Regions from separate parts of the Homo sapiens genome. Here region 1 is linked to region 2. Evidence: fine-mapped expression QTL. Tissue or cell type: whole blood. Region 2 holds a variant in brackets; the other region holds the start of a gene. All regions are shown on one strand. Distances are from middle to middle. Region 1 holds the start of CLDN23 (claudin 23). Region 2 has its middle 33 kb from the start of CLDN23.

Region 1 (10,689 bases), 32 kb before region 2:
ACGTGGCAGTGATAAATTCTATAAACAGAACAAATTAGAGGGAAGTGATACTGAGCTAACAAGAGGGCTATTTCACACTCGATGTGAAAAGTTATTGATTTATTTTCTACAATATTAGGCACTCACAGTTGGTAAAACAGCTGTTGGACTACTGGCCAAAAAGAAAAACTAATACAATATTGAAGGGGCTTTGTTCAATTCAGGCTGTTTTAATGCTATTTAAAAATAAAGATCATAGTTTAAGTTTTTTCATAGTCTAATTTTTATTCTATAACTCACTGAAGTAGATTTACCATAGGATGATTATCAGTGGAGTTCATTTCTCACTCCTATTCAGAATTCTCATAGTATAACATTGTGAACAAAATTGTCTTATCGCTTAGCAAACACAGGAAAGGGTGTTCAGAGTTCCAGGAAGAAAAAGAGAAAATAGCCTTTGGAGAAAGTAAAATAAAGACCTGGCAGAGGGAATCTGAGGACATCTTATTATGGCAAAGTGATCTAGTGCAGGGGTCCCCAACCCCTGGGCCACCAACCAGTACCAGTCTGTGGCCTGTCAGGAACTGGGCCACACAGTAGGAGATGAGCCATGGGCGAGCAAGCATTACTGCCTGAGCTCCACCTCCTGTCAGATCAGTGGTGGCTTTAGATTCTCATGGGAGTGTGAACCCCATTGTAACCCGCACATGCGAGGGATCTAGGTTGCCTGATCATCCAAGATGGAACAGTTTCATCCCGAAACCATCTTTACCCCCACAACCCCATGGAAAAATTACCTTCCATGAAACCTGTCCCTGGTGCCAAAGAGTTTGAGGACTGATGATCTAGTGGACCCTCTGTCCTAGCCAAAGTTGGTAATGTGACTTTCCAAGATGAAGCTGTTGCAGGTTGCACCTTTGTGCGAGGTGGTAGCAGAGGCCTAGAGTGCAGGCAAACAGGGGACTCAGCATCAGTCCCTTCAGAATTCACTGCTGGGGGCTCACTATTCATTTCAAAAGCTGCAGCATAGTGAACAGATTCTTGCATTACTACCGGGCCCTTCTTCAGAAAAGAAATCTGTGGTAGAACCTGGGTATCCACTTACACAGCCAGGTCCTAATGTCAGCAATCATTCATTCATTCCTACCACAGAGTGACTCATGCTTTATTTCTCCCTCAGACTTCAGATGAACTCAGAAGGCCAGGGAACAGAGGTCAGCTCTATCCCCAGATGCTATGCTTAACACAGTCACTTCTTTCTCTATTGTCGCAGAAAGTGAGCCCCACAGGCCTACGCTTATTTGTCGTAAATATCTGGAGCTATCCCATACTCGTATGGGATAGATTGTTTTCTATGCTAAGGAAAAAGAAACATTCAAACAAATCAACCTGCTTACTGAGATGTATGTCACAATCTGTTTTGGCCAGACGGTCATTTGTTGGAAAATTCAGTAGGTACTATGTGGAAGAACTCAGGGCAGAAAGACATAATATTGATTTGTTGAGTGGCTGCGGTGGCCCAGGCACCAAGATGTGTTTGGAGGACAGAACAGAACAAGATCTATGTGGTCCCTGCCCTCAGAGAACTCCCAGACCAGCTAGAAAACAAAATGATTCAAGGACTAAGGAACTGTGGTAAGTGGTGTGACAGAAGGGGTGTCACGGAAGTATATGAAAGGAAAAATTAATTAACTTCATCTAGGGGATGAGGAAACCCTCCCAGAGAAAATGGCACTTAAGCAAAGATCTAAGGATGCACTGGAGTGGGGAAGTGATAGGCAGGGCACTAGGAAAAGAGAAGGGCATTTGCAAAGGTCTGGAAGCAAAAGGGCACACAATGTTCGGGGAAAATGTGGGGGGAAATCCAGTTTCTTTGGGTTATAATGTGAGGAGATGAGGCGGCAGGGAGGGAGAGACAGGGCTGGAATGCAGGGCTGGGTGGGACTGGGAATGGTCTTGTAAAGGGTTGATGCAGGCCAGCTGTGAGGTTCGTGTGGCTAATAAAAAGGGAGCCACAAAGCCCGGTGTAGGAGACCAGTTAGCAGCTTAAGGAGAAAGATGGGAGAATGGCCTGTACTGGGAAGAGGCAGTAGAGAAGAAAGAGACATGGAAGGACGAAAGACAGATTTAGGAGGTAGAACCCCCAGGATGCCCTTCCTCCCCACAGGTAAATAACACCTGGGCTTCACTCATTCCACAGAGATCTAAGCAAAAACGAAACTATGTTGGAAGAGGATTCAAATCACATGAAGCATTTATGAAGTGGCAGTGTCACACATGATACCTTCTGACATGTATGAGAGGGATGGCAGACTGATTCCTGCTTTAGATAGTTAATCACCACACAGTTAATGAAACAAGACAAATTTTAAATGATGCATAGGCCAGGCACAGTGGCTCACACCTGTAATCTCAGCACTTTGGGAAGCCAAGGTTGGCAGATGAGTTGAGGTCAGGAGTTCGAGACCAGCCTGAGCAACAAGGTAAAATCCCGTCTCTACTAAAAATACAAAAATTATCTGGGCATGGTGGTGGGTGCCTATAATCCCAGCTACTAGGTAGGCTGAGGCAGGAGAACTGCTTGCTTGAACCCAGGAACCAGAGGTTGCAGTGGGCCGAGATTTTGCCGTCACACTCTAGGCTGGGCAGCAGAGCAAGACTCCATCTCAAAAAAAATTTTTTTAATTAAAAAAAATTAAAAGTGATGTATATATCACTATTACATAAATGATGCAACAGCATTATTCACAATAGCCAAAAGGTAAAAGCAATCTAAGTGTCTATGGATGGAAGACTGGATAAACAAAATGTGGTATTTATGCACAATAGAATATCATTCAACCTTCAAAAGGAAGGACATTCTGACACATGCTACAATATGGATGAACCTGGAGGACATTAAGCTCAGTGAAATAAGCCAGTCACGAAAGGACAAATACGGTCCGATTCCAGTTCTATGAGGTACCTAAAGTAGTTAAATTTATAGAGAGAAAAAAGTAGAATGGTGATCACCAGGGCCTGTGAGGGAGGGAGGAAAGGAGAGTTAGTGTTTAGTGGGTACAGTGTCAGTTTGGGAAGAGGAAAAAATCCCAGGAGTGGATGGTGGTGAGGGTATCACAACAATGTGAATGTATGTCATACCAATGAGCTGTACACTTAAAGATGGTTACAACGGTCAACTGTATGTTACATATATGTTACCACAGGTTTTTTTTTTAATTTAAAAATATTCTTTTAAAAAAAGCAGTCACTGTCATTCCTAGTGTTGTCCACTCTGGAATATTCAAAATTATTTCAAACCAATGCTAAATTAACTTGAATTTTAAAAATAGTTTTAATTTTAAACAATTATAAAGGCAATACGTTTTCATTGTAAAAATCTAGAAAATACAAAAAAGTGTTATTAAAGGATAATTTTTAGAAAAAATGTAAACATCGTGACTTTCACACAAATATAAAATGAATATGTGTGAAAGAGGTTATTTAACTCATTATTGAATAAGGAAACCAGTATGATGTTAAAACCAAAGAAGCTGGCCACTTGCCTGCAGTCCTAGCTACTCCAGAGGCTGAGGCGGGAGACTCACCTGAGCCCAGGAGTTTGCAACCAGCCTGGGCAACACAGCGAAACTCCCCAACCCTGTTTAAAATAAATAAATAAATAAATAAATAAATAAATAAATAAAAGAAAAAGGAAAAAAAAAAAGCAAAGAACAAAAGGACACACATATACAGACAAACAGGAATGCTAAAATGAATTTACAAATCAATGCCATACTGGTCAGTATCCATTGGACAATAATCATTCCACTGGGACGAACTCATTAGCCTTGATGTTGGCAAAAGTCATTTGCAATACTACAGGCTTTCTATAATTTATAGAGTTGTAAAATAACCTACAGACGAGAAAGGCCACAGTACACTGTAAAATTAAATAAACCTGCAAAAAACGCTAAGCAGGACATCCGGGAACACTGGTCCCTCTTTCTAGTCCCCTTGAAAGTCTCACAAGGCTGAAAAAGGAAAGTAAAATCCTTGTGTAACCCTTCTGCCCAGAAGTACACTGGCACAGATTCTTTAGAGACGAATTTAATCCAGAGTGTGGAGCCTTTATTAAGGAAATAATCCGGTGCAACGTTCTGGGACACGCTCCTGGACTGGGTGGGCTTCTGCACACTCACCCAGCGCACCTCCAATCCCCGGGAGCGCTCGGCACCGCCCACTTCTCTGCGAGTGGCTGCAAGTTGCAGAGCAAACCAGGGGGCGATCTGGAACCCTCTGGGAGTAAAGGGCTAAGCTATAAGCGCAGGGTCGACGGGCAGGGACCGGAAACAAATTCTAGGAACCGAGATCCGCTGAGCAGCAGGGAAGCTGCGCAGCCACCGCGTCCCGCCAGCGCCGCCTCTTTCCCTCCCCGCCCACCGCCCGCCTGGCCCGGCGGGGCGGCGCGAGGACCCAGGGGCGGGGCGACCTTTGCTCCGGCCGTGAGCAGTCCAGGCCAGGCGTGGCCCAGCCGCCCGGCTGCAAGGTGGGGTGTCCCCGCCGCTCGGATCCCCATCTCACCTGCCGCGGGCGAGGTGGCCCCGCCGCTTCCTGCGCTCACCTCGGGTCCCTCCCTCCCGGGCCAGGTTTGGCCGCGGCAGCCGCCCCTGGGCGCCCGCGCCCGGACCCGCGGTTTCGGTCAGACCCGCCCGCGGGCTGGTTTCGATTAGGGCCAGTAGGAGGGCGGAGCGGCCGGGACGCCAGGAGGGAACTAGCCTAAGTGGGGACGGTCCCCGTGCAGGAGACAAAGAGCGTCCCTGGAGCGATCAGGGCTCAGGAGCCCGACCCGGAGCCCGGGGCGTCCGCGCTGACTTCGGGTCCCCGGAGCCTGGGGCACGGCAGGGAGAAGACGACGGCGGAGAAGGCGACAGCGGAGAAGGAAGGCAGGCTGCAGGGGCGCCGTCGGCGCGGCGGGCCGGGATGCGGACGCCGGTGGTGATGACGCTGGGCATGGTGTTGGCGCCCTGCGGGCTCCTGCTCAACCTGACCGGCACCCTGGCGCCCGGCTGGCGGCTGGTGAAGGGCTTCCTGAACCAGCCAGTGGACGTGGAGTTGTACCAGGGCCTGTGGGACATGTGTCGCGAGCAGAGCAGCCGCGAGCGCGAGTGCGGCCAGACGGACCAGTGGGGCTACTTCGAGGCCCAGCCCGTGCTGGTGGCGCGGGCACTCATGGTCACCTCGCTGGCCGCCACGGTCCTGGGGCTTCTGCTGGCGTCGCTGGGCGTGCGCTGCTGGCAGGACGAGCCCAACTTCGTGCTGGCAGGGCTCTCGGGCGTCGTGCTCTTCGTCGCTGGCCTCCTCGGCCTCATCCCGGTGTCCTGGTACAACCACTTCTTGGGGGACCGCGACGTGCTGCCCGCCCCGGCCAGCCCGGTCACGGTGCAGGTCAGCTACAGCCTGGTCCTGGGCTACCTGGGCAGCTGCCTCCTGCTGCTGGGCGGCTTCTCGCTGGCGCTCAGCTTCGCGCCCTGGTGCGACGAGCGTTGTCGCCGCCGCCGCAAGGGACCCTCCGCCGGGCCTCGCCGCAGCAGCGTCAGCACCATCCAAGTGGAGTGGCCCGAGCCCGACCTGGCGCCCGCCATCAAGTACTACAGCGACGGCCAGCACCGACCGCCGCCTGCCCAGCACCGCAAGCCCAAGCCCAAGCCCAAGGTCGGCTTCCCCATGCCGCGGCCGCGGCCCAAGGCCTACACCAACTCGGTGGACGTCCTCGACGGGGAGGGGTGGGAGTCCCAGGACGCTCCCTCGTGCAGCACCCACCCCTGCGACAGCTCGCTGCCCTGCGACTCCGACCTCTAGACGCTTGTAGAGCCTGGGGGGCGCCGGGTGGCAAAGGACTCACCCCCGCACAGGCCCGCCTGGCTTCGAGTTGGAACCCGGACACTTGCCCCTCACTGGTGTGGATGGAAATCTGCCTTTCGTGGGACCAAACAGGACTCCTTGGACGATTAGTTCAGGTTGGGTTTGGTTTTCTTCTTAAAGAGTTTAGTTTTCCTCTCCAGAGGGATCAGGGTCCTCTTAGGGAGTGACGGGCTTTTCATATATTTTTGCTGAAGAATATATGGAAAGGGTGGCATTTGCGTCACGTGGACCAGGGACAGTGCTGAAATCAGCAGTGCTCAGAAACAATTTAACATGTTGAAACGACAATATTCTAAAATACTGATGAATCTTGCATCAATATAATTATTGGGTTTTTTTTCTTTTTCCTGCTGTATAACTCCTTGCCATGCAAACTCTCAAGAGGCCAATATATTCCTGGCCATGTTTGAATGAGCCTCTTAAAATAAACTTAGAGCCATGCAAATGCCAGCAGCTTAATGGATTTCATGGAATGAAATACCGTGATTAACTCATAGCTACATATCATTGCATAAATGGGATTTATCTTTTTTCTCACTTATTTTTGCGGTGAAAGTCGAGGGCATGCAAGAGTTTCTCTTCCAGAAGCCAAGAGGAGAACAAAGGTCCTAATGCTGTACTATTCCACCCTTTGGACGCCTCATCCAGGACGCAGAGGACTCTAGGTTTAACATTTTGTACAAAATGGAACCTGTTAATCATATTAAAGCACATATGTATATATCTTTTATTTATAAATAAAATTTTAAAACAATAGTTTCAGTATAGCCACAAAAGCTCTTTTGTCTTCAGTACAACGTTTGGGAGTTTAAACATTCATTACTAACAATTTCCTGGCTGCCTCGGCACTTGTGTCTGAAATCTAGCACTCAAATCTTTGCACCTCTTAGCATAAGGTTACTAAAAAAAGCCAACGGGCCCCACTTAAGTCCCTGATTGCTTTGGTTTTAGGTTCATGCCATTTCTGTGCAAAGCCAAGTCTATTGCTGAGAAAACGAGAAGCACCAGTTTCCACTTGAGGTGAGACTGGAAATCTTTTCCTTTGTAGCAGTGGTGTTTAGAATCACAGGAAGGCAGCTATGTGTTCCATGAAGGGGACTGGGTCTCCAGCAGGGCTGGCTTCAATTCCAAGTGGTTGATTTAAGGGTACCTTTAACCGAACTGAATCTCTTCTTTAAAACCTGCCGTTCAGAGGTAGGAACATTCATTCAGTTCAGCAAGCACTGATAATAGCTATAGTGAGGCTAACTTAATAGCACATGCTGCCTGTTAGAGTGGAAGGGATGACAGAGATTCACTTCCCTTGCCATTTGGTACTGGAATCACTTCTTTCTCTCTTTCTGAAGCCAGGCTTTAACGTGTAGGCGGTATCACTTTGGAATCTCTTTCAAATGCAGATTCTGATTCAGTAGATCTGGAGTGAGGCCCTGAAAAGATTTCCTAACTGGCTTCCAGGAGATGCCAATGCTGCCGGCTCATGGACCACACTTGGAGTTGCAAGGCTTTCGCTGGGACTGTCTCACTCAAATTTCAATCCCAACTGGTGGCTCATATTCAGACCTTTGAGTGCCTGCTACCGAGATGCGCTTGGGGACTTGCTCGAGGGTACAGAGCCAAAAGGGAGAAAGTGCAACAGGGCTCTTTTCCACTAACACCTCCGAAGGCAGCAATTAGGGACCTGAGAAGTCAGCACCTAGCAGACACCGTACAGGTACTGGGCTCCTGGCAAATGGTGAGTCTGGGCTGCATCATAATTCTATCTCCAGGGAAGCTTTGGTAAAAACACACAAAACTTTTGTGTGTTTTGCTTTTCTCCCCATCCCAATGATTCTCCACTGCCTTATATGCAAAACATTTCCTGCCTGAGGATTAGGATTCGGTTGCTGGGAGTTAAAACTCTACTTTTCCCCTATCAAGAGAACGAAGCCAAAACTCCTCCTTTAAAAATACAAACTCCTTTTTGCTATAGAAATATTCAAGACAGCCTGTAATCCCAGTGCTTTGGGAGGCCAAGTGGAAGGAATGCTTTGAGGCCAGGAGTTCGAGACCAGCCTGGGCAACATAGCTAGACCCCATGTCTACAAAAAAATTTTTAAAAGTTAGTCAGGCATAGTGGCAACATGTCTAGAGTCCTAGCTACTTAGGAGGCTGAGGCAGCAGGATCACTTGAGCCCAGGAGTTCAAGGCAGTAGTGAACTAAAAGCACATCACTGCATTCCAGCCTGGGCAACAGAGCGAGACTGTCTCTTAAATTAAAAAAAAAAAAAAAAAAAAAAAAAAAAAAAAACGGGCATGATGGCTCATGCCTGTAACCCCAGCACTTTGGGAGGCCGAGGTGGGCCCATCACGAGGTCAGGAAATCGAGACCATCCTGGCTAACATGGTGAAACCCCGTCTCTACTAAAAATACAAAAAATTAGCCGGGCATGGTGGCGTGCGCCTGTAGTCCCAGCTACTCGGGAGGCTGAGGCAGGAGAATGGCGTGAACCCGGGAGGCGGAGCTTGCAGTGAACCGAGATGGTGCCACTGCACTCCAGCCTGGGTGACAGAGCGAGACTCTGTCTCAAAGAAAAAAAAAAAAAAAAGGTTCAGGAGAGCATGGAAAGAGAGTCCTGCATCAGTCTGGGATCCACGTTTGCCCTGCGGGTCATTCTCTGCCACAGCAAGTCTCAGGAGTTGCTGCTGTGGGCAAGAATTTATCCTAAACTTTTCCTAAACTTACCACTGACCAGCCCAGCAACTGCACCACAGAGAACACACTCAAAGCACTTCTGTCTTGTATCAAGCCCTCTGACCTACCAGACTCATGTTTAATCCTCCCAATCCCCAAAGGAAGTATAAGTCCCCATTGAATGGATGAAGTCTTTTCTAGATTACTCAAGTGATGCCAGGAGGACGGTGAGTTCTGTGAAGGTAAGGCAGAAACTGCTTTAACACATCCCTGCTCTACCCGTTCGCCAATCTGGCTCTTATCTGGACACACGCCCTCACCAAGGAGGGGTGTGGCTTTGAGCACACAGCTGGTTCTCCACCGTGGAGGCTGCGGGAGGTGCTGTCAGGGTGCTTTGGCAACCATCCTTCCCTTCATTGTGTAGATCGTTCACCCAGTATGTTTTTGAGCGTCTGACATTTTGCCAGCACATTTGTGGGCACCATGAAAAACAATACCATCCAGGCCCATTCTGTGTGGAACTTAAATAATCTCCTGTGATCATGTACAAATAAAATGAAAAAGATTAAGCCAGAAATCAAGGGATGGAGGAAGAAAGGTGTTTTTTGTTTTTGTTTTGTTTTTGGGAGACAGGGTCTCACTCTGTCACCCAGGCTAAAGTGCAGTGACATGATCAGGGCTCACTGCAGCCTCAACCTCCCAACCTCAGTGGATCCTCCAGCCTCAGCCTTCCAAGTAGCTGGGACCACAGATATGCATCACATCACCCAGCTAATTTTTTTTTTTTTTAAACAGACAGAATCTCACTATGTCACCCAGGCTGGTCTCGAACTCCTGAGCTCAAGTGATCCTCTCACCTTGGCCTCCCAAAGTGCTGGAATTAGAGGTGAAAGCTCCCACACCTGGCCAAAGGTGATATTTTAGGAAAAGTGGTCAAGAAGAAGGAGGTACTTGGGCAGAGAACTGAAAGAAGAGAGAGAGGAGCCTTTTAGGCAGAAGGAACAACTTCAAGTTTCCACTAGAGAAAATGTGAAAACAGGTGGGCGTCTCAGTCTTACTACCAGCTAGTTTTGCTTCTCTTTCTAGAATCGGGTGGTAAGGCCAAGAAGCAGCTGGTGGTACAACGGAGTAACCCTGAGTCAACCTTGTCATCTACTCTTTGCCAGGCTAACAGATTCTTTCAGAGGGAATACCATCTGGAACAAATTCACCCTGTCTTCTAGAATATTTCCATAAGCAGACAGGGAGGGTCTCTGGGGATTCTAGGAATTTAATCAACTTGAGCAATCAGCCTGTTTTGCAGCCTCGTGCCCTGCAGTCTGTTTCTTCCTAGACCCTGCGTGGTCACCCAGCAGGTTAAAGCAGCTCCTGACAGGCCCCAACAACTTTTAGATGAATTCGGTGAACTTTCCTCATGGCCATTCTATAGTCTCCACCCCAGGGGAAGAGCAGCTTCAGCAGCAACCACATGCGACCTATGTGCTGGCATGAGGACTCACTGCATTGGTGCCACTGGGACCCCTCCTCGGCATGCGACGCAGTCCCTCCTGTCTCCATTACCCCTTAAAACCCTCCTGTCACATTCCCTCTGGGAGACACTGCTTTGGAGAATAATCCCAGTGCCCCTCTTCCTTGTGCCAAGTAATAAAACTCCTATTGATCACACACCTGCGTTCTCAAGGAGCGTGGTTTGTTATTCATCGGACCAACAAACCCTGATTTTGGGGGGGTAACATTTCCAGAATCAAAAATAAGCAATTTCTTTTTTTTTTTTTTTTTTTTTTTGACAGGGTCTCCCTCTGTCACCCAGGCTGGAGTGTAGTGGCATGATCTTGGCTCACTGCAGCTTTAATCTCCCAGGTTCAAGCGATTCTCCCACCTCAGCCTCCCAAGTAGCTGGGACCACAAGCACACACCACCACGCCTGGCTAATTTTTTGCATTTTTTGTAGAGAGTGTGTTTCTCCATGTTGCCCAGACTGGTCTCGAACTCCTGAGCTCAGGAGATCCACCTGCCTCAGCCTCCCAAAATGCTGGGATTACAGGCGTGAGCCACCATGTAAGCAAAAAATAAGCAACTTCATGTGTGAATAGTCCTCCACTAAGCAGGACTGAACACATGAAAATGAGGTTTCA
Region 2 (10,158 bases):
GAGAACACCAAATAAAATACAAGGAAACAGAAAATATGAAAGAAGAGATAAGAATGGAGATCCTAGCCTGGAGTTTAATTTTGCGAATAATAGCAGTTTCAGAGGGACAAAAAGCACTTGATGAGGAAATGGTAATGTTCACATATGTATACATAAGAAAACTTCCCTGAGGCCGGGTGTGGTGGTTCATGCCTGTAATCCCAGCAATTTGGGAGGACGAGGCGGGCGGATCACCTGAGGTCAGGAGTTTGAAACTAGCCTGGCCAGTATAACAAAACCCCGTCTCTACTAAAAATACAAAAATTAGATGGGTTTGGTGGCAGGCACCTGTAATCCCAGCTACTCAGGAAGCTGAGGCATGAGAATCGCTTGAACTCGGGAGACAGACGTTGCAGTGAGCCAATATGGTGCCACTGCACTCCAGCTTGGGTGACAGAGCGAGATTCCATCTCAAAAAAAAAAAAAAAAAAAAAAGCCAGTTGCGGTGGCTCACACCTGTAATCCCAGCACTTTGGAGGCCAAGGTGGGTGGATCACCTGAGGTCAGGAGTTCAATACCAGCCTGGGCAACATGGTGAAGCCCCGTCTCTAAGAAAAATACAAAAATTAGCTGGGCAAGGTGGCAGGTGCCTATAATCCCAGCTACTCAGGAGGCTGAGGCAGGAGAATCACTTGAACCAGGGAGGTGGAGGTTGTAGTGAGCCGAGATCACGCCATTGCACTCCAGCCTGGGTGACAAGAGCAAAACTCCATCTCAAAAGAAAAAAAAAAGGAAGAAAGAAAGAAAGGAAGGAAGGGAGGGAGGGAGGGAGGGAGGGAGGGAGGAAGGAAGGAAGGAAGGAAGGAAAAACTTCCCTGAGCTGAAGAGACTTGTTTCCTGTTAGAAAGTGTTCATTAATTCCCAAGCAAAATGAATGAGATTGGATATCCTCGGCCATACATCACTGAAATTTCTGAACCCCGAGGATGGAGAAAACACAGATTGAGTATCTCTAATCCTAAATGCTTGGACCAGAAATGTTTCAGATCTCTGATCTTTTCCGATTTTGGAATATTTGCATATGCATAATGAGATATCCTGGAGATGGTACCAAGTCTAAACATGAAATTCATTTACGTTTCATATACACCTGATACACATAGCCTGAAGGTAATTTTATACATTATTTTAACAACTTTGTACTTGAAACAAACTTTCTGTACATGAGGTCAGGTGTGGAATTTTTTACTTGTGGAGTCATGTTGGTACTCAAAAAGTTTCAGATATTGGAGCCTTTCAGATTTTGCATACTCGGATTAGGGACCCTCAAGCTGTACAACATGTTAGACAGAGAAAACGAGTTCTTGAATAGGAAGAGAATCCAGGCTAGCACCAAACTTCTCATTTCAGACTTTCGATAGAAAGAAACATGGAAGTTTCTATTGATAGTCTTATTTCCCATGGGCTGAGAATCCTGTACAGATGCATCATGTTCAAATATGAGTGCAAAAGAAGACTATTTTTAGGCCAGGTGCAGTGGCTGACACCTGTAATCCCAACACTTCCGAAGGCCAAGGCAGGTGGATCACCTGAGGTCAGGAGTTCAAGACCAGCCTGGGCTACATGGCGAAAACCCATCTGTACTAAAAATACAAAAATTAGCCAGGGATGGTGGCACATGCTTCTAATCTCAACTACTTTGGAGGCTGAGGTGGGAGGATCGCTTGAATCCAGGAGCTGGAGGTTGCAGTGAGCTGAGATCATGGCACTGCATTCCAGCCTGGACAACAGAGCAAGACTCTGTCTCATTTAAAAAAAAAAAAAAAGGATATTTTTAGACTTTCAAGAATTCAGAAGTTGATCATTGTTGTACCACTACAAAGAAAATCACAAAATGCTCAAAAAGAAAGTAAAGATTAATTCAATTCTAAGATTTAATGACAGGGAAGCAAAATAAGAATACAGAATACTGGGAATGGAATATATATTCTTGTAAAAAGTACAATTTCATTAGATACTGCAAAAGTGTGTGAAGGTCACCTTCTGTCTTCCCCGCCCTGCCTGGGAGACTGACAGACATGGACTCTTCAATGAGGCCCTGTGTCCTCTGGCTACCACTGGGTTCAGACACTGAGGAGCCCCATCAGGAGTCTCAAGGAAGGGAAGAGTGAGGTCAGAGTCTTCATTCACCATCTGGCAAAGTCTCCCGGGCTGGCCATGTGCCTCTCAAGAAGGCCATTGAGCCTCTTAAGTTGACTACTCTCCACTACTCTCTCCTTCCCAATTTTGGCAGTCTCTCCCGCACTCTGTTCCATCACACTCTGGAGTGAAGTCTCTGCTGTGGCACACCTAGGCGTCTGTACTCTCCCTGTGGGTCCTACCTCATCACACAAGTGTTAATTGTTCCTTTTTGGGAGGCTGAGGCAGCCATATCACTTATGGCCAGGAGTTTGAGACCAGCCTGGCCAACATGGTGAAACCCCATCTCTACAAAAAATACAAAAATTAGCCAACATGTTGGTGTGCACCTGTAGTTCCAGCTACTTGGGAAGCTGAGGCATGAGGCTTGAGCTTGGGAGGTGGAGGTTGCAGTGAGCCGGGGTCATGCCACTGTACTTCAGCTTTGGCAATAGAGCGAGACCCTATCTCAAAAAAAAAAAAAAAAAAAAAAAAAAGAGAAAAAAGAAACAATTTTCCTATCTGACACTTTCCTACAGTTATATCCCAAATAATATAATTGTAAACTCTGAGTGATAATAAATGCTTTTGAAACAGAAAAATAAATATCTTATAAGGAAAAAATTTTAATGACCTGGAATTGGTGACATTATTACTGTAAGTGAAAAATAATCAAACTGCAAACAAACATATATTTATGTTACCTTCATGTAAGAAGAAAGAAAAATAAGAACACATACATTTCTCTACTTATCTTTATAAAAAGAAACGCAGGAAAGATAAACCAGATATCAAAGAAGTGGATTTCCTACAAGGAGTGGAGGAGAGCAGGAAATGGATAGGAGGAACCTGGGAGGGAATGATACTTTCTCTATGTGCACCTTTCGCTATGGTCATGACATGAAAGCATGTTGGTGGTGAAGGGTGGGAAGAGGGAAAGGATCAGGAAAAATAACCATTGGGTACTATACTTAGTACCTGGGTGACAAAATAATCTGTACCCCAAACCCCCATGACATGAGTTTACCTATGTAACAAACCTGCACATATACCCTTGAATCTAAAATAAAAGTTTAAAGAAATGTAAAAAGATGCATCAGCTGTTAACATCCATTCTTCGCTATGTGGTATTAGAAGGTAGAGAGATGACTAATATTTTTGTATACTCCAAGACTGACTTGAAAAAAGATTTGTTCTAATCTTGTAATATTTTTAAGCACTACAATAAAAATGAATGAAAATTTAAAAATGAATATGAGAAGAAAAACTGTTGCTCAAGTTGACCTTTGAGAGTGCTCCTGCAGTCTTTTGACATATCTTCATTAATGTTACTGTTATTGCTGTTCTTTGAGCATTTCCTCACTTTCTGATGCTACAAGATACTCCACTCTCATCTTGTTTTTTTATTTTTCTTTTTTTTTTTTTTAGATGGACTCTCACTCTGTCACCCAGGCTGAAGTGCAGTGGCGTGATCTCGGGTCACTGCGACCTCCGCCTCCCAGGTTCAAGCAATTCTCCTGCCTCAGCCTCCCAAGTGGCTGAGATTACAAGCGCCCACCACCATGCCCAGCT[T/C]TTTTGTTTGTTTGTTTGTTTGTATTTTTAGTAGCGATGGGTTTTCACCATGTTGTCCAGGCTGGTCTTGAACTCCTGACCTCAGGTGATGCACACACCTCGGCCTCCCAAAGTGCTGGGGTTACAGGCGTGGGCCATCACACCCAGCCTCCAGGCTCATCTTGTATATTTCCTGCTCAAGCCCTAGAATCAGCCATTTCTCAGGAAGCCCTAGTTCCTTTTATTGGAGAATGGGATTCGAAATCAAGATCTGGACGCAACATATGCCCATTGCACTGGCAGGTTATTGCTTACAGGCCTTCTCAGATGATAGAGCAAAGAAACATATGTGTGTATACTAACCCCTATATATACATATATCTATCAATGTTTCCATCTACAACCATCTGTATTTGTATTAAACAAAATGAATTCATACTAATGTCATGTCTGCATCTCTAATCCATTACCATATGGATCATCCTAGCATTTTCCCCTTGCTTATCTGTAACATCTCACTCCAACAGTGAGAAAACTAGCTCCCACCATCTGCCATGCATTTACTTAATGGATCAATTCCCCTGCACATGTATGGTTTACGTGTTTATTAACCTTCACCCCTGCCAGGGTTTGTTTTTTCTTTTTTTCGTATAAAGCAAACAGGAAACAAATAATAAAATGATAGACCTAAGTTTAACCATTTAAATAATTACATTAAATTATACTAATTGGTTATAATCTGAATGTTTGCATCTCCCCAAAATTAATATGTTGAGCCTCAATCACCAAAGTCATGATATTAGGAGACGGGGCCTTTGGAAGGTGATTAGGTCATGAAGACCAGAGCCCTCATGAATGGGATTAATACCCTTATAAAAGAGGTCCCAGAGAACTGCCCTGCCCCTCCCACCATGTGAGCCAGAAAGTGGGCTCTCACCAGACTTTGCATCTGCCAGCACCTGGATCTTGGACTTCCCAGCCACTAGAACTCTGAAGAATAAATTTATGTTGTTTATAAGCCACCTAGTTTATGGTGTTTTGTTATAAAAACCCAGCAGACTAAGATGTGATCTAAACAAACTAATTAAAAGACAGAAATTTATAAACATGCATTTTACAAAAAGACCCAACTATATGCCTTCTGTAAGTAATCCACTTTAAATGCAATGACATTGATATTTTAAAATGTGATAAATGTAATGAAAGGATGGAAAGCATACATTATGCAAATACTAATTAAAAGAAAGCTAGAATGGCTACATTCACATCAGATAAATATCAGAAACAATTAAAATTATCAGGGACACAACCTGCGTAGGGGATCAAAATTAACATGGTTCATGAAGGGCAGTGGATGCTGCATGCCTCCAGATAGAATGTCCTGAAGAAGACACAAAATCCCTTCATGAGAATGTGTAACCTGAATCTAATCACAATAGAATCATCAGAAAAATGCAAACGAAACAACATTCTGTTTTTAAAATGTCAGAGGGGAATGTATGCCTAAAAACTATTGATGTCATAAAAGACTAAGAAAGGCTGTGGGGAGTTGCAGGTCAAAGGAGGCTAAAGAGACATGCCAACTAAATGTGATATTTAACCCTGGCCTGGATCCTCCCTGGAGAGCAGTGAGGAGTCCTGTGAAAGACATTATTAGGTCAACCAACAAGACATGAATATGGGCCATAGATTAGATAAAAATATGACATTAATAGAAATTTATGAAATCTGTAACTATACTATGGATATGTAAGAGAATGTCACTCTTCTTAGGAAGTACACACTGAAGTGTTTAGGGATAACAGCCATGATATACGTACCTTACCCTCAAATGGTTCTGAAAATAATCACACACATGTGTATGTGTGTGTGCGTGTGTGTGTGTACAGAGAGAAAGCAAATGAATAGAGCAAATGTTATAACATATTAATAACAGGTAAATCTGAGTAAAGGGCATTACCAGTATTCTTTGTACTATTGTATTTTACTAATTATAAAGTGTTTTCAAAAATGTTATAAAAATTGACCAGGTGTGGTGGCTCACACCAGTAATCCTAACACTTTGGGAGGCTGAGGTGGGTGGATCTCTTGAGGCCAGGAGTTCAAGACCAGCCTGGCCAGCATGGTGAAACCCCATCTCTACTAAAAATACAAAAGTTAGCCAGGTGTGGTGGTGTGCGCCTGTAATCCCAGCTACTCTGGAGGCTGAGGCAGGAGAATTACTTGAACCCGGGAGGTAGAAGCTGCAGTGAGCCGAGATCGTGCCACTGCACTCCAACCTGGGCGACAGAGCAAGACTCCATCTCAAAAAAGAAAAAAGTTATAAAAATTATCCATAACTCAATTCTTAACTTCATTAATAAAATATAGAGGTTAGGAATGGGAGACCCATGGGGAAAGTGAATGTCTTCTCAATGTCGTAGTTGGTGGGGAATAGGAATGATGATGAATCTTTAGAGAGTCAGAGTGACTATTTTAGTATAGTCACATATTCACAGAGACTTCTAACCCTATGAGTTAAAATACAGAAGATATATAGTAAAATTTGTATTGCTTTATATTTTAGAAGGACACAGAGAGTTTTTTAAATTAATGTCCTGATTAATCTGGAAGAAATGTGAAAAGGAGAAAAGCATGAACAACAATAGGTATAATAAATAGTAAAATGCAAAGTAATAAGAAGATGTGAAATCAAATCCATGAGATACAGGGAGAAATGTGAACGGATTGAACACCAGTATTAGATGATAAGGACTCTCAGAACGGATTAAGACATAATACCAAACTATATGCTTCCTACAAGACACACATGTAAAACTTTTGACAGAAAATTTGAAACTTAAGGGATAGGCAGAGATACCAAGCACAGGCAAACCAAATAATTTAAATAAAATGAAATTCAAAAGCAGTGACTTTGCTATCAGCTGTAGGAGAGCCACATGAGTTTGCAGGTGATGAGAAATCATTTGATACCTCCCTATTTTCTTTCTACCCCGAGGAGGGTGTGCCACGTTTCCTTAACAACCCAGTCCACCCCTTTGTTCCAGCATAAATGGCATTAATGATGGTTTCATTGGTCATCATCTGGGGGCGGTCTCTCACTAACAGCCTAATTTCCTATTGCCGAGAAGACGGTTCTGATTTTTTTTTTAACGTATAGAAACGTGCATACGTGATTTTTCTGAAGTTTGTTCTAATGATCTGAGACATCTCTACTCACCCTGGAGAAAAGACTACAGCTGTGAATGGTGTGTTGACGCCACTAAAATTACAGCTGCTTACAGCTTCCAGGTCTTTTCCATAAACCACTAAAAGCAGAACCCTCTAGGATACACCTGGAGCTTTGTGGGCTGGCTTTCCAAGTCTGAGTTTTTGCTGCCACCTACAGGCTCAATCTGGGCAGCACACTTTGCCCTTAATGCCACTTTTGACTCATACCAAAAGGTCCCTTAAATAGCGTCTACGTTGCAAATTGCCCAAGGAACCAAAGTAAGTATCCAGCCTCCATGAATATGGCAAGTATCCCCAGACAGGAGCTACAGGGACACGTCCTCTACATATAAGGGACAGCGGTAAAGCAATTAATTCTCACCAGGAATATCTTCCCTTGCCGGACCCTGAGATGACCACTGAGCATGGAATCCCAGAATCATGCCATCTTTCCAGCCTGGAAATTCATCACTTCTCACTGCAAACACCCACATTTATTCCATGCATCCTATGTGCCCGGCATCTTCCCCATGCATTATCTCATTTATTATTCACAACAATACTATGAGATAATAACTCTCATCACCTCTTTTTACAGACAAGGAAACAAACCGAGTTTCAGAGAAACCAAATAACTTGTCCAAAAAATACAACTAGTAAATGATAGATTCTGGGATTAAACCCAAATCTTGCAGTTCAAACTCAACAACTCTTCAGAGTGTGACATCCTTGATTTATTCATGGAAAAATCAACCCCATTGCCGAGCAACTTGAACAACCTTCCTTGAAGAAGGGTAAAATGTGTTACTTTCATGCTGTATTTTCCTGTTGGTATCAATGTCCAACTCCCAAAAAATCTACAGCAACTGACCACATGAAACTACTAAATTCTTCGGAAGAAAAATTAGTAAGTGCCCATACTAAATGGCCACAATAGCTTCAATGAGCTCTTCTTCTTGGTAAAGATACTTCCATTCGTTCATTCATTCATTCATTTATTCCAACATGCTCCTGCAAGCCACCCAAACCATATCAAGATACAATAGAGTACCTGCATCCACAGGGACATAAGGGGAACCCGGGGTGTGCTGTGGGTATGATGTCACCTAACAGCACTAATCTGAAGTCAGTTTCTGTTTTTTCTTCTTCAGAATCCTTTTTCACAAAAACTACAAAGAATTTACCCACAGGCAATGAAAGCCTTTCTTTTCATTGTTCTTTCTATTTCTTTCAAGTTTATGTTTTCAATTTCATTTAAATAATGTAACTTTAAATGCATTAATTTGATTGTATTATACATCACTGAGGGAAGGTTCAGGGCAGTTTTTTTTTTTTTCTTTTCCTTTGCTTGTCTTCACCCTGTCTTTGTTTTTTCTTCACATTCCTCTCAGTAATCCCCACTTATCAAGTTAAAACATATAATAAACATTATGCTTTGTACTACATGTTTACATATCCCTGTAGAGACATATAAATACGTACACATTTGGAGAGGAAAGCCCCTCCCCAAATCCACTTTATGTGTGTACCCATACAATTTTCAAGGCTATTGTTTGATAAAATCTCTTGGCCACTCAGAATCCATAGACTAAAATCCAGGTGCAGTGGTTCACGCCTGTAGTCCCAGCTACTCGAGAGGCTGAGGCAGGAGGATTGCTTGAGCCCAGGAGTTCAAGGCTGCAGTGAGCCATGATCATGCCTGGGAATAGCCACTGCACTCAACCTGAGCAACATAACATTGCCCATTCACTACGATGTTGTCTGTGAGTTTGTCATAAATGGACGGCTCTCAATATTTTGAGGTATATTCCTTTGATGCCTAGTGAACTCCCAGACTCCACAGACTCAGCTAAAAGGATTCAGAGCCCTCTTACTTCAACCTCTGCCTCATGGCAAGTGATTGAATAAGCCTCTAAGTCAGATTATTCTCCCTTAAAGATCTTCCAGATCAAAGACGTAGTGATGACCCTAGGCAGGTAAAAAACATTTCTGTGTTTTGTCTTCTAGGGTAGGTAAAAAGATGTTTTCTTAAGTCCAAATAATATATCTCCAGCTTCTATATAAAGTGATTTTACAGATTAAATAAATCCTTATTGGATCATCTGTTCCTAAAATTATTAAAAGTTAATTGAGGAAACAAAACCTACCCTAAAAGAGAAAGTCAATGATGATTCCAAGGAGTGGATAAGAGTGTAATTTCCAAGGCCAGGTGCAGTAGCTCACACCTGTAATCCCAGCACTTTGGGAGGCCAAGGTGGGCAGATCACTTGAGGTCAGGTGTTCGTGACCAGCCTGGCCCACAGAGTTAAACCCCATCTTTATTAAAAATACAAAAATTAGCCAGGCGTGGTGGCAGGTGCCTGTAATCCCAGCTACTCGGGAGGCTAAGGCAGGAGAATCGCTTGAACCTGGGAGGTGGAGGTTTCGGAGAGCCAAGATCATGCCACTGCACTCCAGCCTCAGTGACAGAGCAGACTATCTCAAAAAAAAAAAAAAAAAAACAAAGTATAATTTCTGAAGTGTGATCAAGTATATTCAAATTCCAGCTTCACACTTACATGCTGTATGGCATTTAGCAAACCAGTTAATCTTTCTGTGCATTGTTTCTATATCATAGACTTCTAAGAATTGAGGTAATACATGCAAAGCACAGAGCAAAAGCCAAGGCTCTGGTATGAGTAATAGATTTTAGAAAAATGCTGCTGACCCAGTTTTCAACCCCAGAAGAGATGATTCCCTTGGCTTGACGGATAGAAGCAGAGGACATGATAAAAAAAAAAAAAAGCCCTCCACAAACTGGATATCAAAGGAATATACTTCAAAATAATAAGAGCCATCCATCTATGACAAACCCACAGCCAGCATCACAGTGAATGGGCAAAAGCTGGAGGCATTCCTTTTAAGAACAGGTACAAGATAGAGTTGCCTACTCTCACCACTCCTATTAAATATAGTACTGGAATTTCTATCCAGAGCAATCAGGCAAGAGAAAGACATAAAAGGCATCCAAACAAGAAAATAAGTCAAATTATCTCTCTTCATAGATTTAATGATTCTATACCTAGAAAAGCCTGAAGACTCCACCAAAAGGCTCCTAGAACCAATAAACAACCTCGGTAAAGTCTCAGGATACAAAATTAATGTGCAAAAATTCAGTAGCATTTCTATACACCAATAACATTCAAGCTGAGATCCAAATCAAGAACACAATCCCATTTATAGTAGCCACCAAAAAAACAA

Evidence for each region.
Region 1: CLDN23 starts here. The variant in region 2 is fine-mapped to the expression of CLDN23 in whole blood (TOPMed, PIP above 0.99).

Annotation. Positions count from the first base shown.
Region 1 is chr8:8,697,458-8,708,146 of GRCh38, forward strand. It overlaps CLDN23 (claudin 23), which reads left to right and starts at 4,480. Exons shown (of 1, transcript NM_194284.3): 1 at 4,480-6,639. The coding sequence starts at 4,942. The coding sequence ends at 5,820. RefSeq lists a silencer at 4,213-4,832 and an enhancer at 4,306-5,273.
Region 2 is chr8:8,730,001-8,740,158 of GRCh38, forward strand. No RefSeq gene overlaps it. Among named protein-coding and RNA genes, the nearest start is that of CLDN23, 33 kb to the left of the region's middle. RefSeq lists an enhancer at 6,500-7,001. The variant T/C (reference allele first, on the strand shown) is at 3,730.